Linked DNA regions of Homo sapiens. The protein of the gene in region 7 purifies or fractionates together with the protein of the main gene of each other region. This does not show direct contact. Each region holds a gene or a part of one and is shown on either strand. Other genes may lie near its edges.

The links.
Region 1: the proteins of PMM2 (region 7) and ANXA11 fractionate together in Homo sapiens (co-fractionation; one large-scale study listed by BioGRID). This does not show direct contact.
Region 2: the proteins of PMM2 (region 7) and TAGLN3 fractionate together in Homo sapiens (co-fractionation; one large-scale study listed by BioGRID). This does not show direct contact.
Region 3: the proteins of PMM2 (region 7) and ALDH4A1 fractionate together in Homo sapiens (co-fractionation; one large-scale study listed by BioGRID). This does not show direct contact.
Region 4: the proteins of PMM2 (region 7) and PPIL1 fractionate together in Homo sapiens (co-fractionation; one large-scale study listed by BioGRID). This does not show direct contact.
Region 5: the proteins of PMM2 (region 7) and SEC14L2 fractionate together in Homo sapiens (co-fractionation; one large-scale study listed by BioGRID). This does not show direct contact.
Region 6: the proteins of PMM2 (region 7) and AKR1C3 fractionate together in Homo sapiens (co-fractionation; one large-scale study listed by BioGRID). This does not show direct contact.

What each region holds. Positions count from the first base shown.
Region 1 is NC_000010.11:80,150,389-80,153,537, reverse strand, and holds the end of ANXA11 (annexin A11), read left to right. Parts: 3' UTR 1-2,649; downstream 2,650-3,149. UniProt on the Homo sapiens protein: Binds specifically to calcyclin in a calcium-dependent manner. Required for midbody formation and completion of the terminal phase of cytokinesis.
Region 2 is NC_000003.12:112,001,922-112,005,421, forward strand, and holds part of TAGLN3 (transgelin-3), read left to right. Parts: intron 1-3,500.
Region 3 is NC_000001.11:18,889,056-18,892,555, reverse strand, and holds part of ALDH4A1 (delta-1-pyrroline-5-carboxylate dehydrogenase, mitochondrial isoform a precursor), read left to right. Parts: intron 1-1,664; exon of another isoform or gene 1,665-1,862; intron 1,863-2,450; coding exon 2,451-2,544; intron 2,545-3,101; coding exon 3,102-3,194; intron 3,195-3,500. UniProt on the Homo sapiens protein: Irreversible conversion of delta-1-pyrroline-5-carboxylate (P5C), derived either from proline or ornithine, to glutamate. This is a necessary step in the pathway interconnecting the urea and tricarboxylic acid cycles.
Region 4 is NC_000006.12:36,872,004-36,876,246, reverse strand, and holds the start of PPIL1 (peptidyl-prolyl cis-trans isomerase-like 1), read left to right. Parts: upstream 1-1,443; 5' UTR 1,444-1,474; coding exon 1,475-1,530; intron 1,531-4,243. UniProt on the Homo sapiens protein: Involved in pre-mRNA splicing as component of the spliceosome. PPIases accelerate the folding of proteins. Catalyzes the cis-trans isomerization of proline imidic peptide bonds in oligopeptides. Catalyzes prolyl peptide bond isomerization in CDC40/PRP17.
Region 5 is NC_000022.11:30,414,018-30,417,517, forward strand, and holds part of SEC14L2 (SEC14-like protein 2), read left to right. Parts: intron 1-1,741; coding exon 1,742-1,848; intron 1,849-1,930; coding exon 1,931-2,070; intron 2,071-2,216; coding exon 2,217-2,386; coding exon of another isoform or gene 2,387-2,484; exon of another isoform or gene 2,485-2,958; intron 2,959-3,500. UniProt on the Homo sapiens protein: Carrier protein. Binds to some hydrophobic molecules and promotes their transfer between the different cellular sites. Binds with high affinity to alpha-tocopherol. Also binds with a weaker affinity to other tocopherols and to tocotrienols.
Region 6 is NC_000010.11:5,104,414-5,108,186, forward strand, and holds the end of AKR1C3 (aldo-keto reductase family 1 member C3), read left to right. Parts: intron 1-1,181; coding exon 1,182-1,264; intron 1,265-3,047; coding exon 3,048-3,090; 3' UTR 3,091-3,273; downstream 3,274-3,773. UniProt on the Homo sapiens protein: Cytosolic aldo-keto reductase that catalyzes the NADH and NADPH-dependent reduction of ketosteroids to hydroxysteroids.
Region 7 is NC_000016.10:8,811,339-8,814,838, forward strand, and holds part of PMM2 (phosphomannomutase 2), read left to right. Parts: intron 1-299; coding exon 300-375; intron 376-1,652; coding exon 1,653-1,768; intron 1,769-3,500. UniProt on the Homo sapiens protein: Involved in the synthesis of the GDP-mannose and dolichol-phosphate-mannose required for a number of critical mannosyl transfer reactions.

The DNA.
Region 1 (3,149 bases), on a different chromosome or scaffold from region 7:
TGGGGCCTAGAACCAATGTGCTCTGATGTGACCATATTCTGTGACATTACCTTGCCCTGTTTACTCCAAAGTTCCCAGCCTGGTGCCCAGCAGGCAATATTGCACCTACAGACACATTTACTTTGGTTTCCAAAGTGTTTTTAGACATTTGAATTTGTTGCCAACATTTAAACATTGAGAGATTTCATATTTTTAAAAATCTGGAATTCTGGCTTCTCTTGAAAACTCAGAAATTCTGGCACTATGGGGCTTGCATTCCTGCATGGCTGGAGCTGAGTTGCAGCTGCCCCTTTAGGCCTGTACTCCTTATTTGCTATAGGCTCCGTCTTGTATTACACTAAGCCCATGTCACCCATTTGGCTCCTGCAGGCCTTTGGGTTTGAGACCCTGGTCTACACACTTGGAGACCACCTGTTGTAAAGTACATGGATGTGCTTTGGTCAAGGAATAGACCAAGGTGGATATCCAGGCCAGAGTGACTCAGCGAGTTTAGGTCACAGGCGTATACTCCACTTGTTATATAACCTGCTTGTGTAAGTTCATACTTGGCTCAAAGCCACTATTGTTTGGAAAAGGTATAACTGCCCTGCTGACGCTGTACAGATGTTCTTGGGCTCGGATGGGCATGGCTCCACGTGGTGTGCACTAGCACCCAGAGAGAGTGAAGCTATTGACCCCTGTAAGGGAGAGTGACCATCTGGCAGATAGATAGAGGGGAGCCAGGACATGGCTCAGCTTGTGCCCAGAGGGAGAGTTAAGCCGCTGACCCTGTAGCCAGGGAGTGCACCTGCAAGCATGGGGGTGGCAGGAGCCACAGAGCTGGCTGCTGAGAGGAGCTGCAGATCTGGAGAAGACAGCCTAGGTAAAGGTGGACAGTGTGAGAGCTGCTGATGAGATAGCTGCTGAATAAAACTACATTTTACCTGCCTATGGCCCGCCAGGTTTTCTTTCAGCTATCGCCCATCCACCCAGTCCCCTCGAACCTCAGCATGGGCTGGAACCTGACCCTGGGCATGACATTTGGCATAGTTGTGGACCTGACACCTGTGTTTGTCCTAGTCCTGTTTCTCCCTGCCTTCCTGTTCCTCTCGCTGCCCTCATGGTCACTCCCAAGAGATCCAACCCATGTTAAGTATGGGCTGGAGGACTGCATGAATGCCTCATGATCTTCCCAGAGGCAAAGGCACCTACTGCCTTCCAAGGTCAGTGGGAGGTTGGGATCAACACTGTTTATTATGCTTAGGACAAAAAAGATAGGGAGAAAGATGTGCAACCTTACAGGTCATCTTTCTGGGATAGAACACAATGGGTCTTCTCCTGCCTCCTGGATATGTTAGTCAAGGCCAGTCCATGCTACACATCTAGTCTGACTTCTAAAATAGAAGCACCAGATGAATTCAGCCCTGAGAGAATTTTCAGCAGCTGTGGGGGCGCTGGAGGAAACACTATTAAATAGTTTTGCACCTGAGACAGATAGCCTCACTCGCCTCACCCTAGTCCTGGTGGCATTTGTCTCAGGTGCAAAATTTAAGAAAGAAACCTTGGAGTGCTCACCCTGTGGCTGGGTAGATGGTCCTAAAGTGGTGGTTTTCAAGCCTGAGTGTGTATCAGGATCATCAGGGGAGCTTGCTAAAGAGCAGTTCCTGCGGTCAGACCCTCATGCATTTTGAGCAGGTGTGGGGACTGGGAAACTGCATCTGTAACCTGCTGTAATCTAACGCTTATCTAAATACTACTGTGCTCACACAGAGAACACCGCAAAAGTAGAGGTGTTCCTCCAGAGGGCAGGTGAGCAGATGGCACAGTCTGCTTGGAATTCAGTCAGGTGATGAGAGATGAGATGAGGCACTCCTAGCTTTGGGAAGAGGGAGCTGAAAGATGAACCTTTGCAGGTGCCCACGGTCAAAGTGGTGGTTTAATGCCATGCCATGCCCATTTTCTGTTGGCCTTGGCAGGGAGTTACAGCCCTACCTTAGGACCTGGCTCCTTATTTCTGCTGTAGGCTCTTTCCTGCCCTGGCCGAGATGGAGTGGAATGAGACCTAGAAACATCAAGCTAAATACATGTCCTCAGAAAGATAAAGGTTTACATTTTCACCCCCATCAAATCTGAAAGCTCTCTGCCTGTGTTTTTCTAAGGGATAGGGACATCATTACTCAGTCCACAACCTGGACTCATGTAGGGTCCCCTGTCAGTAAAGGAGTCAGTCAAGCCCACCAGGTATACCAAGGACTCTTACCCTCAGCCCCTACTCCTTGGAAAGCTGCCCCTTGGCCTAATATTGGTGTTTAGCTTGAGCCTGACTCCTTCTCAACACTAAGAGCTGATGAAGTCCTGAAGCAGAAAGAGCTCTGACCTGAGAGTCAAACATCCTTATTCTGATCTCAGCTCAGCCCCTGATTTGTTGTGTGACCCTGGATATGTCACTTCCTGTCTTTTTGACTTTTTAAAATGAAGGGTAGACTAGAGGAGAGCTTCTAAAACTTTAATGTGGTCAACGAAATGGAATAGGAAATTCCACAAGTCTGTCCTTCCACAAAAGCAGCAAATAAGGTGGCAAAAACTCAAATTTATGGGAACTCTGGAAACGAATTGAAAGTTTACAGCAATCAGGTGAATACCTAAGAATAAAAGCTGGATTTAGTAAGAGAGCTTTGTTGTGTTTTAGCTTACCCTGGCCCCATCCCCCACTCCCCAGCATGGCAGCAGCATCAAAAACAATATCCCTCATTCCCTGTATAGGTTCCTGTCACTGGAGGTAGCAGATTAGACCTTATTTTCAAGAAGTATGTTGATTTTGATTTGATTTGTTGCTCCCTGAAGGACTGGTTCAAATGCCTTTCTTTTATTTTGCCTAATTTGGAGCTCTCCTAAAGTGAAGATGGCAGCCTGGAAAGACGTTTCAAGGTCAGTGTATTAGTGGCTCATGCCTAGGGGAAGGAATAACATTTGGAGCAAACAGGAGACAAATTGAAAAGCTTCAGGAGGAAAGGCTAGGAAATAAGATTCTTTGGGTGAGAATAAGGACTTTAAAGAGATTCCACATATTCCTGGGAATCTGAAAGACCATACACATGCCTAGGGCTGGGCATGTGCTTAAAAAGACTTGAGAGGGCCCTATGCTGTCACCTCTGCCTGACCTTCAGGCT
Region 2 (3,500 bases), on a different chromosome or scaffold from region 7:
CTCACCACACTATGATTTATAAAGAAACAATTGCCTCCTTAATCCTCGGCGTCATGCAAAGAGCTGGCATTGCATGTTTCCCTCATAGGTGAGTGGTTAAAATCCTACGATGCTAATAAGTTTACCTTGTGGTTTGCCATTATTTAGAAACTCAGATATTCAAAACTGCAGGCCAGGCCAGGCTATGGATCTTGCTGTTGAGCCTCCAAATTCTCATGTAATTTCACAGTTGAGATTTGATCCTTGCTTCCTCGATCAAAACTATGATGATTTTTTCTAGCTAATACAGATAGCTACATAGCTACTGCTTATTGATGTTTTCCTATGCACAAGGCATTGTACAAGTGCTTTATTGCATAATGTCAGTCAGTTCTGCTAACAATCCTATGAGGTAAATGTTTTTTAATTTCCCCATTTCAAAGATGATGATACTGAAGCTTGCCCATGATTTCTTGTGTCCATGAGATAGCAGAGCCAGAATTCAAACCTGGGCTCTCTGACAGCAAAGAATAGAGCCTTAACTAGTCTGCCAACCCATTCTTGAGCCAGGAGGCTTAGTTTCCTTCACCTACACCGTGAGTGTGCTGTTGAATCATAATGGTGACTAGGTGATGAGGATGAAGAGGAGGTGGGGGAGGAGGTGAGGAGGAGGAAGATGACTCAGGACTGTGTAGGACAGAAGGATAGGAGAGTCAGTGTGAATGGAAGGGACCCGGGTGAGTCCCCCCCCCACCCCACAAAGTGCAGGAAGTGTGTGGGAGGAGGAAGAAGCCAGGAGGTCTGTGGGAGGTGAGGATTCTGAGAGCTTTCCTGTCTTCATGCTACTGAGGATGCTTTACTTGTCTCTCCCCTTTTTACAAAGAACACAAAGGTAAACTTTACTCGTCAGAGGTGCTCACAGCAAGTGTGGAGGAGTGTAGGGAGAAATAGTCCCTGATGTACAGAGTCGGAGGAGGTATACACCACCTGCCCCAGACCCGTGTGTTAGACTCCTCTAAAGAAAGAGGGAGGCCTGGAGGGATGAGTGTGGTCGCCTGAGCCAGGGCCGTGGACCAGTCAGCTCCAGGGCAACAAGACAGACACTAAGACTCCCAGCCCTAGGGTAGAAAAATGGGGCTTTAAAGGAAATAAGGAAGGAGGTCCACTCCAAGGGCACCTGGGCTGACAGGTAGCAGGAAGAACTGTAGGTAGGTCATGCAGTAGGTAGGGTTGAACAGGAGAGCTGTCAATAGGAAAGCAGGTGCTTCAGAGTTTCCAAATGGCCCCAAGAGGCCCCAGGGTCTGGTGGCTGACTCTATGGAATGGCCAAAGTCCAGGGAGATTCATTATAAGTTGGAGGGGATATCTGATATTCCCCAGGATCACTGTCTGAAGCTTAGGCCAATGCTGGTCACCATACAACAGGGCAGGAGGTACAAAAGTGGGTCGCTTTGAGCAGAGAAGCAGGAAGAGGGAGGGGAAGGCTGACAGTACTGCAGAGCAGACTGAGCAAGTGAGGCTGGGGTCCTTTCTGCAAGAACTGGTTGTTGCTCATGTGTTTTGGCATAAGAAAGCTGAAATCAAAGGAATGCTGCGGGGCAGGGTTGGCACGTGTTATGTGTCTATGTGCATGTGAGGGGGTACATGTTTGTGCACACAGCTATTAGACTAGCTGTTTGCTTAGCTTAGTCCCACATTCTCCCTACTATTCTCTACCTTGACTGTGGTTTTAATGCTGTCCTCACATATCAACTTACATTAATTCTGGATTCCCTGCACCTTGGTTGTGGTGTCTGTGGCCACTGTGGCTCCAGCCCTCCTTGCCTAGGAGCTTCTTTTCCTCCTCTGCAAGTATTTCATGCCCAACCTCTCACTCTCCCATCTCCCCTACTCAGTGTCTTCTCCCAAGTAGGGCTCTGCTTGCCCACAGCTGCCCTCTGACTCTTCAGGCTGCCTGGATGTTGCAAACCCGTAAGTCTGGAGGAGCCCAGGCTTGCCAAATGCATTCTTGTTTAGGCTTCAATCACTTCTATAGGCTGAGGCCCCAGATGTACCACTATCCTTAATCCCCCCAGGTGAAATACTTCAGATAGACTGCAGGGTAATTGGAATACAAGATTGAAGGCTTTAAAATGAAACCCAAAGCTAAATGGTCCAGAAAAACAACACAATCACAGGGACATTATAGATAAAGCTACTGAAGTCCCCCTAGCAGGGAGCTGGGGTGACCACTTGCTTTCAGTGATGGAGAAGAAGTAGGGTGGCTTAGAGGAATGGAAGGGGCCTGGGAAGTCTTCTCTTGGAAAACAGAAGGTGAATGGCCTGGCAGATTACTTTTGGATTTGCCATGGGTGCCCTGGAAAGGGCAGGGGTGGGGCCATCTCAGCTGTCTATGATTCAGAAGAAAGTACTCTGCAGGTAAGACTTCAGCATCTTTTCTGTGGACAGAAAGTGGGAAAGGAAGAAAAGGCAGAGCAAGAAAGGTGGGGGGCGGGGGGTGTGTGTAAGAGAGAGAGAGAACATATTAGAGCAAGTGAGTGTGCTGGTGTAGTATCAGGACAGAAAGACTGCAATACAAGCTTATCCTGGAAAGTATTACAGGAGAGTACAGGCTCCTGAGTCAGAAATTAGACTGCCTGGCCAAACCTGTGCTCTACCACTTATCAATTAACTTCTCTAAGCCTCGATTTTCTCAGTTGTAAAGTGGGGATAATCATATGTATTTCACAGGGTTGATATGGAAAGTAAACAAGATAGTTCATTAGAAGTGTTTAGCATGGTTCATGATGATAGTAGAAGATAATAAAAGTTGGTAATGTAGAAATTATTATTGTCATTGGCTTGTCTTTTCTAAGATTAACAGAAAATAAGGGAGGGAAAAGTAAGTCTGGAAAGACACTCACTCTGTCTTAGAACAAATGGACTTAGTGGCCACATACAGGAGCTGGTGTTGCGGGGGCGGGGGAGGTTGCCTGAATGACCTTTGCCCTCTCTGACAGCTGTGGAGCTTGTACCTCATCAGATATTCTCTAATACAAATGACCAGGCTTTAGGCATCACTTTATTGACATTTTTTTCCACTTTGTGATCATTACCCTCTTGATGTCTTTCCCCATAATTTACTGCTTTACTAATTCCAGACACAGAAGACCCCACTACACTGGAAAGAGCATGAGTTTTGGAGTCAGGTGGATGGGTTCAAATCTCTTTTGCTACATACTAACTGTGTGACCTTGTTTAAATTGCCTAGTTTCTCAGAGCCTCAGTTCCCTTCTCGGTAAACAGTTCTAATGCCTCTCTTTTGTAGAATTTTTGTAAGGATTAACTATGTAAAGAAGCTAGCACAGTGCCTGGCTACCAGACACCTAATAAATGTTGGCTTTCCCCCCCACACTATTAGTCATTCAGCAACTGATCTTTTTGGTTCATTTGTATAACCACTTGATGTGCATTAAACGTATAAAATTCTAGAATGTCAGAGCAGGCAAGACTCACAGATCGATCAGTCTCATGGCTCTTCT
Region 3 (3,500 bases), on a different chromosome or scaffold from region 7:
TCCTTCTACCTGGGATGCTCTTCCCAGCTCCTCTCAAGCCTCCTTTAAGTCCCTCTCAGGGTCACCTCCTCAGAGAGGCCTTCCCTGACCACCCTGGCTGAAGCAGCCCTATTCTCCCCCTTGTTTGCCATGCTCACCATCTGCGGTTACCTTGCTTATTTCCTGACCAGGCCTCACACTGAAGGTCACCTGTGTGCAGCCAGGGGCCTCGCTGTCTCTGTCACTGCTTTATCTCCAGGGTCTGAGACGGCACCAGAGACCCAGCAGGTCCTCAGTCAACCTCAAGTCAAGTGGAATGAACACAGGGCCTGGCCACACTCCTTTGGTTTTGTGTCCTTCCTTCAGGCTTCCCAGGCTGGGTCTTTGAGCCCCAGACTCCTTCTGGCCCCCGACACTCATAGCCGGGCCAGTCTGTCTCCCATAGGGCAAAAACAATCCCGCAGAACACTAGCCTCAGGCCACGTCCCTCTGAGACCATGATCAGATGAGACACAATAAGCCCTCTTCCTGATTTTTTTTTTTTTCCTTGAGATGGAATCTTGCTCTGTCATCCAGGCTGGAGTGCAGTGGCGTGATCTCAGCTCACTGCAACCTCTGCCTCCCGGGTTCATGTGATTCTTCTGCCTCAGCCTCCCAAGTAGCTGGGAGTACAGGAGTGGGCCACTACGCCCAGCTAATTTTTGTATTTTTAGTAGAGACGGGGTTTTACCATATTGGCCAGGCTGGTCTCACACTCCTGACCTCAAGTGATCCGCCCACCTTGGCCTCCCAAAGTCCTGTGATTACAGGTGTGAGCCACCATGCCGGGCCTTCTCTTCATGATTTTTGTCTAAGCACGGACAAAAACAAGGTCTCTGTGCCACCCACAAAGCTCTGCACATCTTGGTAAATGTTCCTTTTTTCCCAGTCAGCCTCACCCCCACTTTCTGATGGCAGCCAATCCAGAGCTAACCGTGGCTTCCTTAAACCCTCCCCAAGTCACCCTGCCAAACCCCATGGGTTTCCTAACAGCATCTTACTGAGATGCCCTGTGGTTCCCTACGCTGTGTGTTTTCCCTCATTGCGCCGACCAGTGAACCCCACCTGTGCACTTCCAGCTGTTCGGGTTGTCTGGGGCCATTGACACCAGAGAGAGATGGTATCTGGGCCTTCTGGACTCAAGTGCAGGTTTCCCCTACTCTTGATCTTGAACTAGTCATTTTCCTTTTAGGACCAAAATGACCTTATTTCTGTAGAGAGGTGGCTGGTGAGGCCCGTCCTATGCCACGGTAGATGGGAAGTTTGTCAATTTCAAGTGCCCTTTGGGCATTAGTTGACTTTGTCATCATCATTCTTCTCATTTACAGAGGGGGAAACAGGCCTGAAGGGGAAGCCCCACAGCTGGGAGGTGGCAGGGCTGAGGCTCCAGCTCTGGAATGACTGACCCCAGCGTCCTAGCTTTGAGCCACCTGACCTCCCACCTTGTGACCCTCAGATGTGGTAGGGGGTGGTGGAAAGAGGTCAGAGGATTTGAGCAAGGAGTTCTTGAGACTCAGTGTCCTGGAATCAGGCACCTCACCCCCAGGGCCAGCCCTCCCGGGGCTGTGAGCTGAGCTCAGGGCAGCTCTCCAAGTTCATGGTCCACATCTTGGACATTCCTGCCCAGCCAGAGCTCTCAGCCCTTTGTGCCAAGGGGATCTCAGCTGGTTCACATTCTGAGACTGTGTTCTGGAATGTGCTGCCCTTTCAGCTTAGAGAGAGGAGTTTGGGTCTTTTTGGGATAAAGCCTGCCTTGTGGGAGAAGAAAGGGAGAGTAACGCTTTGCATGTGGAAAATACTTCAACGTGGTTTTGCATCTGTGTGTTTAAACTTCAAACAACCGCGTGAGTTCGGTGCGATTATTCTTACTTGATAGACGTAGAACCACGTTCACAGGAGGCAACTCACAGGCTCAAGGACACACAACCGTGGGACTGGGACTTGAACCTTGGGTTGTGGACCCCCAAGGTGGGTTTTTGTTGTTGTTTTGAGATGGAGTTTTTCGCTCTCTCACCCAGGCTGGAGTGCAGTGGCACGATCTCGGCTCACTGCAACCTCTGCCTCCTGGGTTCAAGCAATTCTCTTGCCTCAGCCTCCTGAGTAGCTCAGACTACAGGCACACATGCCACCACACCTGGCTAACGTTTAAAATATTTTTAGTAGAGACGGGATTTCACCGTGTTGGCCAGGCTGGTCTCGAACTCCTGACCTCAAGTGATTTGCCCGCCTTGGTCTCCCAAAGTGCTGGGATTACAGGTGTGAGCCACCATGCCCAGCCCAAGGTGGGGTTTTGACCCCCCACTTTCTAGTTGCATTGGATTTCAGGCTCTGGGTGCCCACCTAGGACCCCCTGTCGGAGGTAGAGGGGCTGGGGTCTGGTGGTGGGGCCGCTGCTGACCTCTCTGCCTCTGTCCCCTGCCCTTGTGTTCCAGCCTGCGGTGGAAGCACACCTCCTCCCTGAAGGTGGCCAACGAGCCCGTCTTAGCCTTCACGCAGGGCAGCCCTGAGCGAGATGCCCTGCAAAAGGTAATGGGAGGGTGGGAGGCACCCGAGAGGTGCAGGGCATGGAGCAGAGGCCATCCCCAGCAGCCCTGAGATAGCGCCCCGTGCCTGCAGCCATCACCCGCTTCTACCCTTGCTCCCAGCCTTGGGTGGAAGCCTGGGAGGGCTGTGGGTCTGGAGTGTGGGAACAGCTGGGAGGACCAAGGTGGCAGCCTGGAGCTACTCTGGGGCTTCTCAGGCCAGGTCAGATGTCATAAACCTAGTTGTTTTATAGTTAAACATGTTTTCCAGTTAATTGCCAGCATTTTAAAAATCATGAGATTTCATATAAGTTTCAGGTGCAGTTTTTTTATCTCTGTGTCATGGGTAGACCTCACCTTCCTGCAGGGTGACAATGGCTGGAGCAGAGTCCGGCTGTCCCCGAGGGCAGCACATGTTCTCTGATGGCCACCGACCTGGCCTGGCCCCCTTCTCATTTCTGTATTGCCTGGGCACCTCCGTCTGTGGACTCTGCGTTAGGGTTTTAGATGGGAGGAAGCGAGGAAGGCGGTGACCATACCCACTCTTGTCCCTCTCCCCAGGCCTTGAAGGACCTGAAGGGCCGGATGGAAGCCATCCCATGCGTGGTGGGGGATGAGGAGGTGTGGACGTCGGACGTGCAGTACCAAGTGTCGGTATGTCCAGCGGGTGGGCAGAGCTCAGCCCCTCCCCTGAATATGTGACCTCTTTCTCTGACAGCTCGTAAGCTTATAATGTGTGGGCTCTGACTTCAAGGCCTTTATAGTGCCCCTCCCCACCCCAGATTTTGAATTCTGTGGACCAGTAAAACTCCCAAAGCAAAGGACGGCACCCACACTGCATCCAGCCCATAGCGGCATCCTGTGTCTGGGCAAGAAAGGCCATGAGGGGGCCACACAGCATCTTCTGTTATTCCTCATAGATTTCTTGCCAAGGGGGTTTGGGAGCTAATGACAAAAAGC
Region 4 (4,243 bases), on a different chromosome or scaffold from region 7:
GGCTTTTCAATATTCAGACATTGGAGCCTGGGAATGGCACATGACTCCCGAGATACACAGTAAAGAACTACATAAAGTCCAGAGAAAGGCAACTTAACAACAGACTAAACAGACCAAGGATTAAGACTTTTTCATCCAGCTCAAGGGCCACAAGGTGGGCATGAACTTGAAACTGCAGGAGGTGTAAAAATTATACTTTAGCATTTATCAGTTTAAAATGTAGTGTTCCGTTCATTATTCATTCAGCAAAGCTGAGCACCCTGTGCTCTGTACTGTGCAAGAAGAGCACAAAGATGAAGGAGGCCCAGCTCCTCTCTCAAGGAGCTGTCTAGTTTATCTTTACAACCTTGTACATCCTTATTCCTTGTTGACAATTAGGGACATTACAGTTGAACTGTCGTTAAGAGCACAAGTGCACCAGCTGTAGTACTTTAAGCAAGTTATTTAATCTGTAAGGCTCAGCTTCCTCAAAGTAAAATGGGAATAGTAATATCTACCTTGTGGGATTTTGAAGATTAAGCGTGAAAATACGCAATAAAATGCTTAGCTTGATGCCTGGCACATGGTAAACATTCAACCATCATTATTAAGTGGTGTGCAAAGCATTTACAGCGTTAAGTTTAGGTACTCTATTTCATTTTTGTCCTCCCTCCAAACATTATAGCTCCTCTAATTTGCTTCTGTTCCTCGCGCCCTGCGCAAACCCTCCTAACAACTTTCAGGTACCATCTATCCCAGCCAATGTTAAGCCTTGTTCTTGCTCTGATCCGTTTGTCCTGTTTTCTCCTGTCTCTTCCTTTCTTTATCTCCTATTTTCTTCCTGCCCCTTCCCTCTCTTTTCTCCTCAGACTCCTCGTCTTTGGATTCTGCAGGCTCAGATTTGCTTTATGACTATGGAAAAACAAGTATTAACTGCCGAGTCTATTTTCAGATCTGAAAAATGGTAATAATACTATCTACTTATAGAATTGTTTTGTGGAGTAGATGAGATAAGAAAGTGCAAGCACTGTGTACATCGTACAGCGCCTTACAAAAATTCTTTACTGGCATCTCTAAACTACCCTCTTTCATTCTCTGCCTCCCCTTCCCGTCCCTGCCCAATTGTGAGACTAAGAAATTCTTCGAATTTAATATTAGGACATAACTCCAACCAGAGCGCAGCTTTTCTGGTTGTTCCCGCCTTCCATGCCTAAACGAACCAATCAGATCGCCCAGAGTGGCGCGGTATCGCCACTTGGAGACCACCGCGAATGAAGTTTGCATTTTCCTCTGTTCTTGAGCCCAGCTTCTTCTCGTCTCCCACCCCAGCTTCCCGGCATTGGAAGAAGGGACCGTCCTCTTCCTTGTCTTGGCCACCCAAATCCTGGTATCGAAAGGGTTGAACGGACCGGAAGTGTGCAGCAGCGACGGGTCCCCAGCTAATCGACGCCGGAAGTAGCAATTACTAGACAAGCATTCCGCCGCCGGCTTCGCTATGGCGGCAATTCCCCCAGATTCCTGGCAGCCACCCAACGTTTACTTGGAGACCAGGTGAGGGGGTTCGGGCGTCTGGGGCTGGCAGAGGAGACGCGGAGCCCGGGCCTCACCACGGGTCTGCGTTCCTGGCGCGTTCCTCCGGGAGGCCGGCCTCCACGTGGAGGGGCGTGGAGCAGCGGCCGAGACGGCCCCCAGAGGGTTGAGAGGGGACCGCCATCGCCCGCGTCCAAGCTCCGCGGGGTCTTGTGCTGAGGTCTCAGCAATAGCTGCCTGATTGTCCTCCTTCCCCCAGTCCGCTCATTCATTCATTCATTCATTCAACAAACGTGTAATGAGTCCGCAAGCCAGGCATATGGAATATGAGTTCTGAGGATACAGAGGTAGATAAAACACAGACAGCCCTGCCTTTAGGAGCTTACGGTATAATGAAAGAGACAGACATGTAAACATTACGTGATAAGTAATACAGTTGTAGAAACAAATTCCAGTAAAATACAGGAAGAAGCACATTTTCCCCACTATCAAAGAGTGATGTGGTAACCAACCTGCTGGCGCCATGCCCCGCTGTATGTCATCTCATTTAGTTTAATCTTAGCAACTCAAATCATGAAGGTATTATTTAACTTTCTCCCTTTCAATATTAGCAGGAGGAAACGCCGGAATTTACAGCTTAAAGCCTTGACCAAAGCCACACAGCTAGTAACTGGAAGAACCTCGTTTGGAGCCTGGTGTGCTCGTCTCACCTTGCTAGATCCTTTAGCTCTATTCATTCCATTGCCTCTTTGGAAAAAGCTCAAAGTGATCTTTACAAAGTAGGACAAGGAAGGGATCCTGCTCAAAAAACCTTTAATAACGTCTTGCTGCTATAACAGTATAAAGTAAAAACGTATTAATCCTGACATTCAAGGTGATTTTTTTCATCTGGCCCTTGTCTACCTGCCATTCTCCCCTCAACAGCCAGGGACCAGCCAAGGTCCTCTGCCTTTCTGTTCTTGCCCATTGCTGCTTTCAGCTAAAGCAGAGTTCTGTCAGTCCTCTCTCTATTTGCTCATGCTGTTCATTTCATGCTCCCTGGCCATCTTCCCCACCTTATATGGCAAAATTCTACATCTTCAGGCTCCAACCTGTAATTTCTGAATTCTCCTGTTGGTATTTTTTAAAGTTACAAAATAAATTGTTAAATCCAAGCAATGTAGACATACAGAGTAAGAAGTGAAAGTCACCTCCTTCCTGAAAACACCATCAACAGTTTGTTGGATGATTGTCCAGACTTTTTTCTATGTACATATAAACCTCTCTCATGTTTTTTTAACAAAAAAATGGGATCATATGATCATACTGTATGTATGTTTTTTCTGTAACTTGGTTTTCTTTCACTCAGTAATTCAGGTAGCTGCCCATAGTATGGATAGTTGATATTTTAGGCATTTCCTATTTCAAGGACATTTAAGTTGCTTCCTTTTTTTTTGGCTATGACAAATACTGAGATGAACATCCTTGCACATATTGTATCCTTAGGCACTTTTGTATATTTTCCTAGAGGATACTTGGAAGTTGAAATTACTGAGGTATGCACATTTCAGAATTGTATACGTACTTCCTGATTGTCTTTCCAAAAGGCTACTTTCTGTATTTTGAAAATATCCTCCAGAATGTAAGCTTCATGAGGGAAAGAGTACCACACACAGAGTAACTGTCAATCTGTGTTGAATGGGAGCAGTGTGAAAGATGAATTGGATGAATTTCAGGCAGAAAGGCTGTTAGCTATTTTCTAGCACACTCCTCATATACTTATAGAGTGTTTACACTGTGCAAGGCACTGGGTATCCAGACTATACAGAGTTGACTCAATTCTCACATCTGGCCAGGTGCCATAGCTCACATCTGTAATCCAGCACTTTGGGAGGCCAAGGCAGGTAGATTGCTTGAGCCCAGGAGTTCAAGACAAGCCCGGGCAACATGGTGAAACCCCATCTCTACAAAAAAATACAACAAATTAGCTGAGCTTGGTGATGCATGCCTGTAGTCCCAGCTACTCAGGAGGCTGAGGTGAGAGGATCACTTGAGCCCGGGAGGTGGAGGTTGCGATAAGCTGAGATTGTGCCACTGCACTGTAACCTGGGTGACAGAGGAGACCCTTTCTCAAAAAAAAAAAAATTGTCACATCCTTGGAGCTTAAAGTCTAGGTATGTGCTGGAGTAGAGGGGAAGGCACTCGTCCTTTCTCTTGCCTCTTCCTTATCTTTTAGTAGTACTGGTGAGGAAAAAGCACTCATCCTATTGGGTAGGTGCAAAGATTCAAAGTTACCAGGTTTTGCCTTTGTTATACTCCCTCCCAAACAAACACAAACTGTACCTTTTATTGAAATTTTTTGAATAGGTAATGTATTTACATGGATCAAAAATACAAAAGTTTTTAAAAGGTATTCATTAAACATCTTCCTATTTTCCATCTACCCAGTCCCTACCCCCACCCAGAAACTTCTAAATAAATATGAACTCCTGATATTTTAATGTCTCTTTTTTTAAAAAATTAAAAATTAAGTGTAAGAATTTTTTTCCTAATTTAGGGGTTGGTTATATTGGTTTCAGATAATCAGATATAGCTATATATATATACATATGTATATATGTATAGTATTAGAATTTTGAGTTCTCCATGCTTGTTATTTTGCTGAAAAGAAGTACCCAGAACACCTGCGTGTTTTACTCAAAAAAGATAATGGGTGTTTATGTTACTTGCATTGTGGTGTTTTCCTTTGCTGAGC
Region 5 (3,500 bases), on a different chromosome or scaffold from region 7:
ACGGGAGCTCACTATGTTGCCCAGGTTGATCTTGAACTCCTGGGATCAAGCAATCCTCCTGCCTCAGCCTCCCAAATCACTGGGATTACAGGCATGAGCCACTGCACCCAGCCAGCTCTCTGCTTTTTGTTGCCTCAGTTATTCTCTCTGTAAGATGGGAAGAATCCTCCTGGCCTTATCCCAACTCTCCAGCTGGACTGGGGGAAGAACTATAAAAGCTGAGCAAGAGGTTTTTATGATTTTTGTTTTTTCTGCTGCTACCACCCACCATGGGCATGAGACGGTTTGGTTTCCTGGCAGCAGAGCTGTGTAGGAGGTTCAGTCTGTTCCCCTACCACACCTAAAACTCTTTCAACCAAACCTGCCTCAGGCTGGGAAGATACAGAATTTTCAACAGAGGGGGGAGATTCACTCGGGCTGGTCACTGGAGCTTAGCAGTGCAGATTAAATCACCCCAAGACCACAGACACTGTGTTCCCAGGAGTTGCATGGTCTTTGGTCCCTAAAAATCTGAGGGCTGGCAGACTCTGGACAGTTTCTGCGGGTCTCCAGCCAGCATGACACTGGCTTGTACCCCAGGGCCTGGAGCTGCTGCCTATATATGCTCTATATAGTAGGCATAGGCAGGTTTTAGTATCAAAATATTGTACCTGGCTGATATTTGTGAATTTGGATTGGTGAAGTGGTTCTTAGCATTGGCTGTGCTAGAGTCAAACTCTCCTAGACAGGAAGGAGCTTGGGTATTTTAAAAAAAAAAAAAAAGAGCCAAATTACTGGTGGCTCAACAGCTGAAAACAATGGGAGCAGAAGTGAAATGGTGGCTGGGGTAAAGCCAAGAATCCATTTAAGGGGTGACTCTACAGAGATGCATTTACTTATTAAGTCACGACTTAGCTGTAGGGGAAGGTGGGGGAAAGACACATAGTTCTGCCCTCACAGTGTTCAGTATAATCAGGACAGGGTATGTGCATTCAGGCCTTCCTGCCCGCCACACGTGCTGTTTCCTCTGCATGGAATGTCCTTCTACCCTTTCTTTGTCCCCTCTCCTGCTGTACTTCAATGTATCACCTCCATGGGGTAATAACATACTCTTAACGTGTATAAGGCACTTTATGGTTTAAAAAGCCCTCTCGGCCGGGCGCAGTGGCTCATGCCTGTAATCCCAGCACTTTGGGAGGCCGAGGTGGGTGGATCATCTGAGGTCAGGAGTTCGAGACCAGCCTGGCCAACATGGTGAAACCCTATCTCTACTAAAAATACAAAAAATTAGCTGGGTGTGGTGTCGGGCGCCTGTTGTCCTAGCTTCTCAGGAGGCTGAGGCGGAAGAATCACTTGAACCCGGGAGGCGGAGGTTGCAGTGATCCAAGATTGCGCCACTGTACTCTAGCCTAGGCAACAGGGTGAGACTCTGTCTCAAACAGAAAAGCCTTCTCAAGTACTTAGTTCATTTCACTCCCACCATAACCAGGCAGGGCAAGAATGTCACTTAGCTGTTCAGACACGAGGGCAGGAACCAGGGTCTCGATTTCTGGCCTGGGGCAGAGCCATCCTCTGGCTCCTGCTGAACCCCCTGCAGTACTATGCATGCACTGTGTGCTCCTAATGCAGGAATTTGAGGCGGGGTGTTGTGGGGTGCAATGGATGGGTTTTTTCTGCCTCTTTAGTGTAGACCACTAGGGTTATGGCGAAATCTTACCTAGTGTTGAGATACATCTTTATCCTTCCTTCCCTCTCCTGCCAGCAAATTGGAAGGAGGTTTTACTGAAACATATCAGCCCTGACCAGGTGCCTGTGGAGTATGGGGGCACCATGACTGACCCTGATGGAAACCCCAAGTGCAAATCCAAGGTATGAGCCGCCAGAGGCTAGAGGTGAACAGGGATGCCTGGCTCAAATGCACATTCCAGTTCACTCCATGCCATGCTTCTAGATCAACTACGGGGGTGACATCCCCAGGAAGTATTATGTGCGAGACCAGGTGAAACAGCAGTATGAACACAGCGTGCAGATTTCCCGTGGCTCCTCCCACCAAGTGGAGTATGAGATCCTCTTCCCTGGCTGTGTCCTCAGGTAGGGGCCTGGGCCCTTCCAGGAGACCCGAGCTTTCATCTATAGGTCCTGATAGGTGGGCTGGAATAGGAGAAGCCCTGGTGCCAGGACCCCGGAGAGGGCACACACAGACAGAATTATGTCTCAATTGGTGATATCCCCTGCAGGTGGCAGTTTATGTCAGATGGAGCGGATGTTGGTTTTGGGATTTTCCTGAAGACCAAGATGGGAGAGAGGCAGCGGGCAGGGGAGATGACAGAGGTGCTGCCCAACCAGAGGTACAACTCCCACCTGGTCCCTGAAGATGGGACCCTCACCTGCAGTGATCCTGGCATCTGTAAGTATCTCTGCCTTGGCAATGCCTTGAAGCCCCATGTCCAGCTTTCTGCCTGTGAGGTTCCTCTTCCTCCATGGATTTTTGGCTCTGAGTGTTAGAACTAGAAGTGGAATGCCATCAGTTCAATCCTCTCCTTGTATAGATGAAGAAATCTAGCCTTGGAGACTTGTTTATGGTGACCCAACTGGTTAACAGCAGGGTGGGACTTTGATCTCATACTCCTAGGTATGGGTGAGTCACAGTCCTAGGCGATCACAGGGGTTCAACACGTCTGCTTTCTGGTCCAGGTCTAACTGGGTCTGTGACTGGACAGATATTTCTTGGGGATGCTCCTTCCCAGAGGTCACAGAGACAGAACTGGCTGGGTGGGCATGGGATCACAAGGTAAGCAGATGCTCAAAAGTGCAGCCTTCACCCCTGAGTTTCACTCATCTCCCAGCTGACCAAAGAATGGACACAGACTATGAGCAGGCAGTTTACACAAGAATATAAGAATGGGAAACAGACATTTGAAAAGGTGCTTAATCTCTCTTAACTTTGTAATACCATTAAAATTCCCCTTGACTCAGCAATTCTACTTGTGAAAATTTATCCTACAGAAATACACAAATACTCAAAGATACAGGAACAAGGATATTCCCGGTAGCCTGGGAAACTGGCAGTAAACCATATGACCATGATAAGGTCTGTTAAGTAAATTACAGTCCATCCATACAATGTTAAAGAGAATAAACTGACATGTAAACTGTCTGGGACATGTTAAACAAATAAGCATGAAACACAGCATGTATGGTATGTACTTACTTTGGTTAAGGAAGTGTGTACACAGAAAAGAACTCTGGGGAAATTTATGCTAACTCTAACAGTGGTTATCTCTGGGATGATAGGATGTTTATGGAGGGCTTTCATTTTTACAGTATTTCTGCAAATATATTTTATGATGACTACGTATTAATATTACATTTATAAGCAGAAAAACCATACCTACACTCCCTTCAACACCCACAATCAAATCTCCAGTTTCTTTTTGTCAGAGCCAATGGAAAATCAATCAGAGCAAAGGCTTTATCATCAGAGCTGAGCTGGACTTGACTAAAGGCTAGCTCCATGGCCT
Region 6 (3,773 bases), on a different chromosome or scaffold from region 7:
CATTCACAAATAATATTCTTGCCTCTCTTTTGTCTTCAATTGACTTATTTACTTTTCTGTACTGTCTAAATAATGAAAGGTCTTGCTACCAGAATGGTACAACTTTTTTTCTAACTCTTTATTTTATTTGATAATATCTTGATTATTCTTGACTGACTATTCTGTTATATGAAATTTTGAAACATCAACATCCATGAAAGAGTACATATTTTAGTCTTTGGTTGATATTGTATTGAAACTGCAGTTCACTGTGAAGAGAACTTTTTGACAATATTGAGACTTTCAACCTATGATGAATTTCCAACTATTTAAATGGCCTTTTAATATATATATCATTAATTTTATAACATTCTCCATTAAACCATATGTATTTTTAAATATTTATCCATAGAATACTGAAAATTATTAGAACCTCTTGATAACGTTTTCCTTTTTGTTTTGTGGATTTTCTAATGTGTAGAAATGTTAAAAGAAAAATGTAATGAACACCTTTTACCTAGACTAATTGTTAACTTGTTCATGTTTTTTATTCTCTCTCTCTCATTCTCTGTATCACTATTAGAGTGATTTAGTCAATTTATAGATTTATTCAATTCCATGTGTTAGCAATTAGTGGCATCCTCTTGATATTTAAAGTCTCTCAAATTTAGAGAGTAAGATACACTTCAAGCCTGTATCTGTTTCCTTTAGACATGAAATTGTTAGTAATTAGACAATTCCTGCCTTGAATTATGTTGAAAACAAATGTTGTTTGCATTATACCTGTTTATTAAAGAGATATAGAAATTCAACAATATCTATCAAACTTAATATATAATCTTGTTATTTAAAAATTTGCCTCTAGATTCTTGTGGGCCTTCTAGGTACATGACCCTATCATGTGGGCACAATGTGACCCTATCATGTGGGCACAATGTCAGCGCTGTTTCTTCTCCATTTTCTGTTGAAATTTTCTCTTTGTCTGCAGAGTTGCACAGTTTCAATACATAATATCTAGGAATGGATTTCTGCTTATTTTTCGTGAGCTATTCATTGACCCACCTGAGTGTTTAGAGCTGACTTCTATAACTGTTTAAAACTTACCAATATTTTAAGTATTGTCTCTGCACCCTACTGTCTAATATACTTGGGGATTCACAACTGGCAATCTAAAAATAATAAAAGTTTTTTATTTCTGATAGGTTTTTGAGTTCCAGTTGACTGCAGAGGACATGAAAGCCATAGATGGCCTAGACAGAAATCTCCACTATTTTAACAGTGATAGGTAAGTTTCCTTTGTAAATGGGTGATCTAATTTATTTCTGGAGAAGGAATGTAGGATGGGTGTTGAGAGTGACCTCCATACCAGAGGGACAGAGGCCAATGTGAGTCAGAGGTGAGACTGGAACTCTCCTGCTGGATTCACTCCAGAGCTCTGTTCTCTGGCAGGGTGAGTGGGCAGGGATCAGCATGGGTCAACCTGTGCCTCTGCTCTCCTGACTCCATGGAACTTTCCAGAGCAGCCAACATCATTGCCAAGTCTGCACGTTCCATATAGGCCTGGTGTTTCTACCACTGGACATGCTGTGGATACTGCCCATGTGACTTCATTAGATGTTTCCAAATCTGTGCTTATATCACATTGTCCCAAACCTGCTCAGCTCCTTATCAAATCAAAAACATTTCCATCAACTTTGTGGTCCAGGTGCCAATTCCCACCTCCTTCATATGGAATTGCTTGCTAGATCCTGTCAATTCAGCATCTTTTATTATTTCAAATGTTTTTCCTCCTTCTCCTTGCATGTTTGTTCATGCCCCAAACTCTGCTTTTGCCTCCAGAAAGCCTTCCTTAGTGGAGTGAATAGGAGCGCTTGTCCTTGATTTCCTGCAATATGGAGCTCTCAAGGCAGAGAATTTAAAAAAATTTAAAATCAAGGAGTGTGAGTGTGGAGGCAGAAGCTCCATTGTTGTATATAATTTGTAGCTGATAAAAGATCTTTACTATTCCTTCATGGTCTAAGGTTCTAGGATTCATAGACGGTCATTCATGTAAATGCAGGAAAAGCAGGAAGTTATGGCCGGGCGCAGTGGCTCACGCCTATAATCCCAGCACTTTGGGAGGCTGAGGTGGGCAGATCGACTGAGGTCAGGAGTTCGAGACCAGCCTGGCCAACATGGTGAAACCCTGTCTCTACTAAAAATATAAAAATTAGCCAGGCATGGTGACACTTACCTGTAATCCCAGCTACTTGGAAGGCTGAGGCAGGAGAATCGCTTGAACCCAGGAGGCAAAGGATGCAGCAGTGAGCTGAGATCACACCACTGCACTCCAGCCTGAATGACAGAGTGAGGCTCCATCTCAAAAAAAAAAAGCAGGAAGTTATGTAACTGCTGGCAGTGGAAATTTTAACAAGTGATAGGGTGAGATAGTGTGTGAAAAAGCATAAGTACAGTGGCCCTTCATAAGTGCTTAAAAATTGGTAGATATCATTGTTAATATTTTTTTAGTTTCAAGGAAAATAAATAAAAAAAGGAAACCATGTAAAAGAAAGGAAGAGTAGCGAGCATGAGTAATTCTTATCATCCATTAAAAATGTAATAAGTTGGTGTTTATCTGTTCCTTTATATTTCATGTTATTTCTATATAAGAATTTTTAATGCACTGTAGCTCCTTGGATATTAGACCCTATATCATATATAACAATTTACATTTCTGAATCTTACAAAATATATTGCATACAGTAGACAGTAGCAGGTAATAAGTAAAGTAACAAAAGAAAGTATAATCAGAGTATCTCTGCTCTGCTGACAGATGTACAGGAATATACTTGAATATTTGACTTTGTGTGTTTTACGTGTTAACTTCCAGATAAGGGAATATGATTGAATAATTTATTATTTTGAAAATACTGTATTATGAAGCCATGTTCATAAAGGTAAGAAAGGCAGATTCTACAACTAGTCAGACAACTTAACATTCATACTAATGACAGCTTCATTGAAATCACTTTACTACTCCCCTAGTAATGGAGTCATTGCATTTATATTATACATTATTCTCTTTTCAGTTTTGCTAGCCACCCTAATTATCCATATTCAGATGAATATTAACATGGAGGGCTTTGCCTGATGTCTACCAGAAGCCCTGTGTGTGGATGGTGACGCAGAGGACGTCTCTATGCCGGTGACTGGACATATCACCTCTACTTAAATCCGTCCTGTTTAGCGACTTCAGTCAACTACAGCTGAGTCCATAGGCCAGAAAGACAATAAATTTTTATCATTTTGAAATAATTGAATGTTTTCTCAAAGATTCTTTACCTACTCTGTTCTGTAGTGTGTGTTTTCTTCTGGCTCAGAAGTGTGTGTGTGTGTGTGTGTGTGTGTGTGTGCTTTCTTCTGGCTCAACAGGGCTAAAAACTGTGTGATTTGCCTGTAAGTTAGGAGTGGGGGAATAATAATCATTTATAGACATACTATAGTGGGACTGCAGTAGAGTTTTCAGCCTCTAGAGAAGGAGCAGGTGACAGGTGTGGATCAGTTAGTGCCTCTTTAGCTCTTTCAGGAAGAACTCGCACAGCATGAACTCTGGAAGGTAAGCGATATTGACAGGATGACCAGCAATCCACAGGCTCCCTACAGCAGCGCAAGGGTCAGAGCTCCTGGAGCCTGGGGAGGAGGCATCCCTGTGAGAGGGGTGGTCAGGGCACCCACCAAGGAGAAATAATTGAAAGAAGCTATGGGGGAGGTTAGGAGAAGGGAGTCAATCCCATCTCTGCTTGGAAAATATTGGC
Region 7 (3,500 bases):
GACCTCATCTCTACAAATAATAAAAAAAAAAATTAGCTGGGCATGGTGGCACACACCTGTGGTCCCGGCTATTTGTTTGGCTGAGGTAAGAGGATCACTTGTGCCTGGGAGGTTGAAGCTGCTGTGAGCTATGATCATGCCACTGCGCTCCAGCCTGGGCAACAGAGCAAGACCCCCATCTCAAAAACTAAACAAATAAATAAATCAATAAGATAATCCTACCTTTGTGGCCAGTAGTTAAAACTGTGCTTTCTAAACTGCAATACAAGAAACAATTGGTATCTTTTTGTTTTTCTCAGAAAGAAAATATAAGACAAAAGTTTGTAGCAGATCTACGGAAAGAGTTTGCTGGAAAAGGCCTCACGTTTTCCATAGGTATTGTATATATTGCCTGTGTTCCAAACTTGGATACCCATTTCCCAGAGTTTGTTGTGGGCCAGTGAGCTATTGATAATGAAGTATGTGCAGTTTTAGGTGGGCAGGAAGATTAAATGAGCAGTCCAGTCTATAGACAAAAACCAACCACTCTCTTTTCTGCATAATTAGCCATAATAGGACTTGCCTAGTCAAGAAACAGCTTACACGCTGTTGGGCTTGGTTCTAAATTCTTACCCAACAGCATTCTTCCTACCTGGACTCCTCTCATCAAAAGAGGAGCACTTTGATTACTAAAGAGTAGGAACTTCTCACACCTTTGGGCAGAAGAGAAGCACTATAGTGAACTCCATAAGGGAGACATGGAATTGAACCCCTTAGGTAAACTAGACCGATGTTTTGGAATCATAGAATGTTTCAACAGCAAGGAACCTTAGGGGCCAATTGGGTGGCTTTTACAGATCAAGAAACTGAGGCCCAGAAAGGAGAAGAGACTTGTCCAAGTTCACAAAGCTGTTGTTTACACAGCCAGTGTGTGAACGTTTCTGGTGTCTAATGCAGAGTTCTTCCTGCAGCACGGACATCTCAGGCTTGTCTTTTGTTAGAATATTCCTGCCAAATGCTTTGCACACCGATTTCTCTTGTCAGTGCTAATGAGTCATTGCTCAAAGCCTCCTCATTTTACTAGCTTTCATCAAGGTAGAGGTTGTAGGAAAACTGGAATGGCAAAGGGATTATATTTAACAGATGAGTGGGTGGGTTTTTTGTCTTCCTGAACTGTGAGATGGACATCTTTCTGACAAAGCTTTGAAAGGGTTTTTGTTGCCCGTGAGCACTGCCTGTAAATCACCTTCAGTGAAGATTCTCATTTTTCCCGCAAAATATGCCGGATGCAACCTGCTTCCGGGCATTTCCCCCTGAGGGTGTGTTAAAGCCCGAGACAAGCACAGCAGAATGAGGCTGGTATCCGATTTTTCATAAGCATGCTTCCTTTAAACCACACGCTTGACAGGGCGCTTAAACGCAAATGCATTTCTCACTCTGAGTTGGCATTCTGTGCCTCAATTTTAGACCTATGTGAAATAATGCTGGAAAAAAACAATGTAGAATTAATTTCTAGAACCTATGCATGAAGTAGTCTAAGTAGCAAACTAGAGTACTGAAAATCAACCTTGGCAACCCACTAACTGACAAAAGAGTAAATTGTTTTTTTCAGTGACATATCATTAGCCCCTTTTTCACCTTTTGCCTTTGTGTGCCCCGTCCCCACCCGGCAGGAGGCCAGATCAGCTTTGATGTCTTTCCTGATGGATGGGACAAGAGATACTGTCTGCGACATGTGGAAAATGACGGTTATAAGACCATTTATTTCTTTGGAGACAAAACTATGCCAGTAAGTAGAGAAGTGTTTGTGCACCTTCATTGTTGCATTTGCGCTTGATGGGGGAAATTGACAACTGGGCTGTTTTTCCTGTACCTACACTTTACCCACCCGCCCTGCTCAAACTGAGCAGTGGCTTCTGTCCTGGAGAGGTGGGTGATTGAGCCACCTTCCCCTCTAAGCTCAGACCCCCGACGCCTCTGTGGAGGCAAGGATCACACTGCATGTTAGTTGAACCTTTTCACCTTGGCTTTGGAATTAAACGTTGGCCACCCTATGTGCCTTCCAGAATACCAGTCCCCGGTGCCACTGTCAAACCCTCTGCGTTTCAAAGCTCTGGCTGTTTCAACCTCATTTTTCCACTGTATTTGTCCACCCGAGGCATTCATTCTAAGTTGAACACGAGGGGCCATGAACGATGGGAGGATAGGGAATGATCTCATGAGCCTGAAACAGGAGAGGACACCAGCAACAGCAAAGAGGCCAAGTGAGTCCCAGGCATCACACACGGCGGGTGCTTGGAGCTGCCCCCAAGGGATGTCAGAAATCTCGAGTTCAGGGCCAAATCTAAACTGAGAACTGAGAGCAGAGCCCAGTGTTAAAGGCCAGGGCCAGCAGGAGGAATACATAGAAGAAATGCCCCCAGGTGTCCTCTCCGTGGGGCAAGGTGGATCCCCAGGAGGTCAGAGAGGCGTTGCTGCCATCAAAGGCCCAAGAGGAGGCTCATCACCACCCAGCTTTGGGCCAGCTCCTTTTCTTTCTCTTTTTTTTTTTTTTTTTTTTTTTTTCTGAGACAGAGTCTCGCTCTGTTGCCCAGGCTGGAGTGCAGTGGTGCAATCTTGGCTCACTGCAACCTCTGCCTCCCAGGTTCAAGCAATCCTTGTGCCTCAGCCTCCTGAGTACCTGATATTACGGGCATGCACCACCACACCTGGCTGATTTTTGTGTTTTTAGTAGAGATAGGGTTTTACCATGTTAACCAGGCTGGTCTCAAACCCCTGGGCTCAAGTGATCCAATCAACTCGGCCGCTCAAAGTTCTGGGATGACAGGTGTGATTTTTAGTACAGACAGGGTTTCATCATGTTGGCCAGGCTGGTCTTGATTCCTGGCCTCAAGGAATCTGCCTGCCTCAGCGATCCACCCACCTCGGCCTCTCAGTTCTGGGATGACAGGCCGCGCCCAGCCCCATCACCTTTTCAGTTACTCCCATCCTCTGGGCCCCTCTGCCTCCCTCCCACATGCAGGCTGGGGGTGTTGGTTACCTTGCCATCAGCAGGCCCGTGTCAGGCTTTCTCGCCATCCTGCACCTAGCAGGTGCATCATAAATGCTGCATATTCAGAGTTTCTCATCCCTCTGATCTCTGGTCCACTCCAAAATCCTTGCTGCACTGCTAAGATCTACCCATGAAAGATTTGCTTTTCAGCAGGGTCCCCACGTCACAGTCTTCCAGCATGAGGGGTACACAGTGGTAGTAGAGGCTTGTTACTTATTTTCAGAATGATAAAACTGAAACCCATAAAGGGTAAGGGATTTGCCGAAGGTCACACGGCTAATGACAGAGCTGGTGGCACCAGAAGAAGTCTACCTGTTCTTTGTATGTTTTAAATAGCTTTATTGAGGTATAATTGATCAGCAAAAGCTGTACATATTTAACGCTCACAGTTTCGTGAGTTTAATCATTGTGCCTCTTTGGTTTTGGGGGCGGTTTGGGATTTTTTTGTTGCTATTGTTATAAGAACACT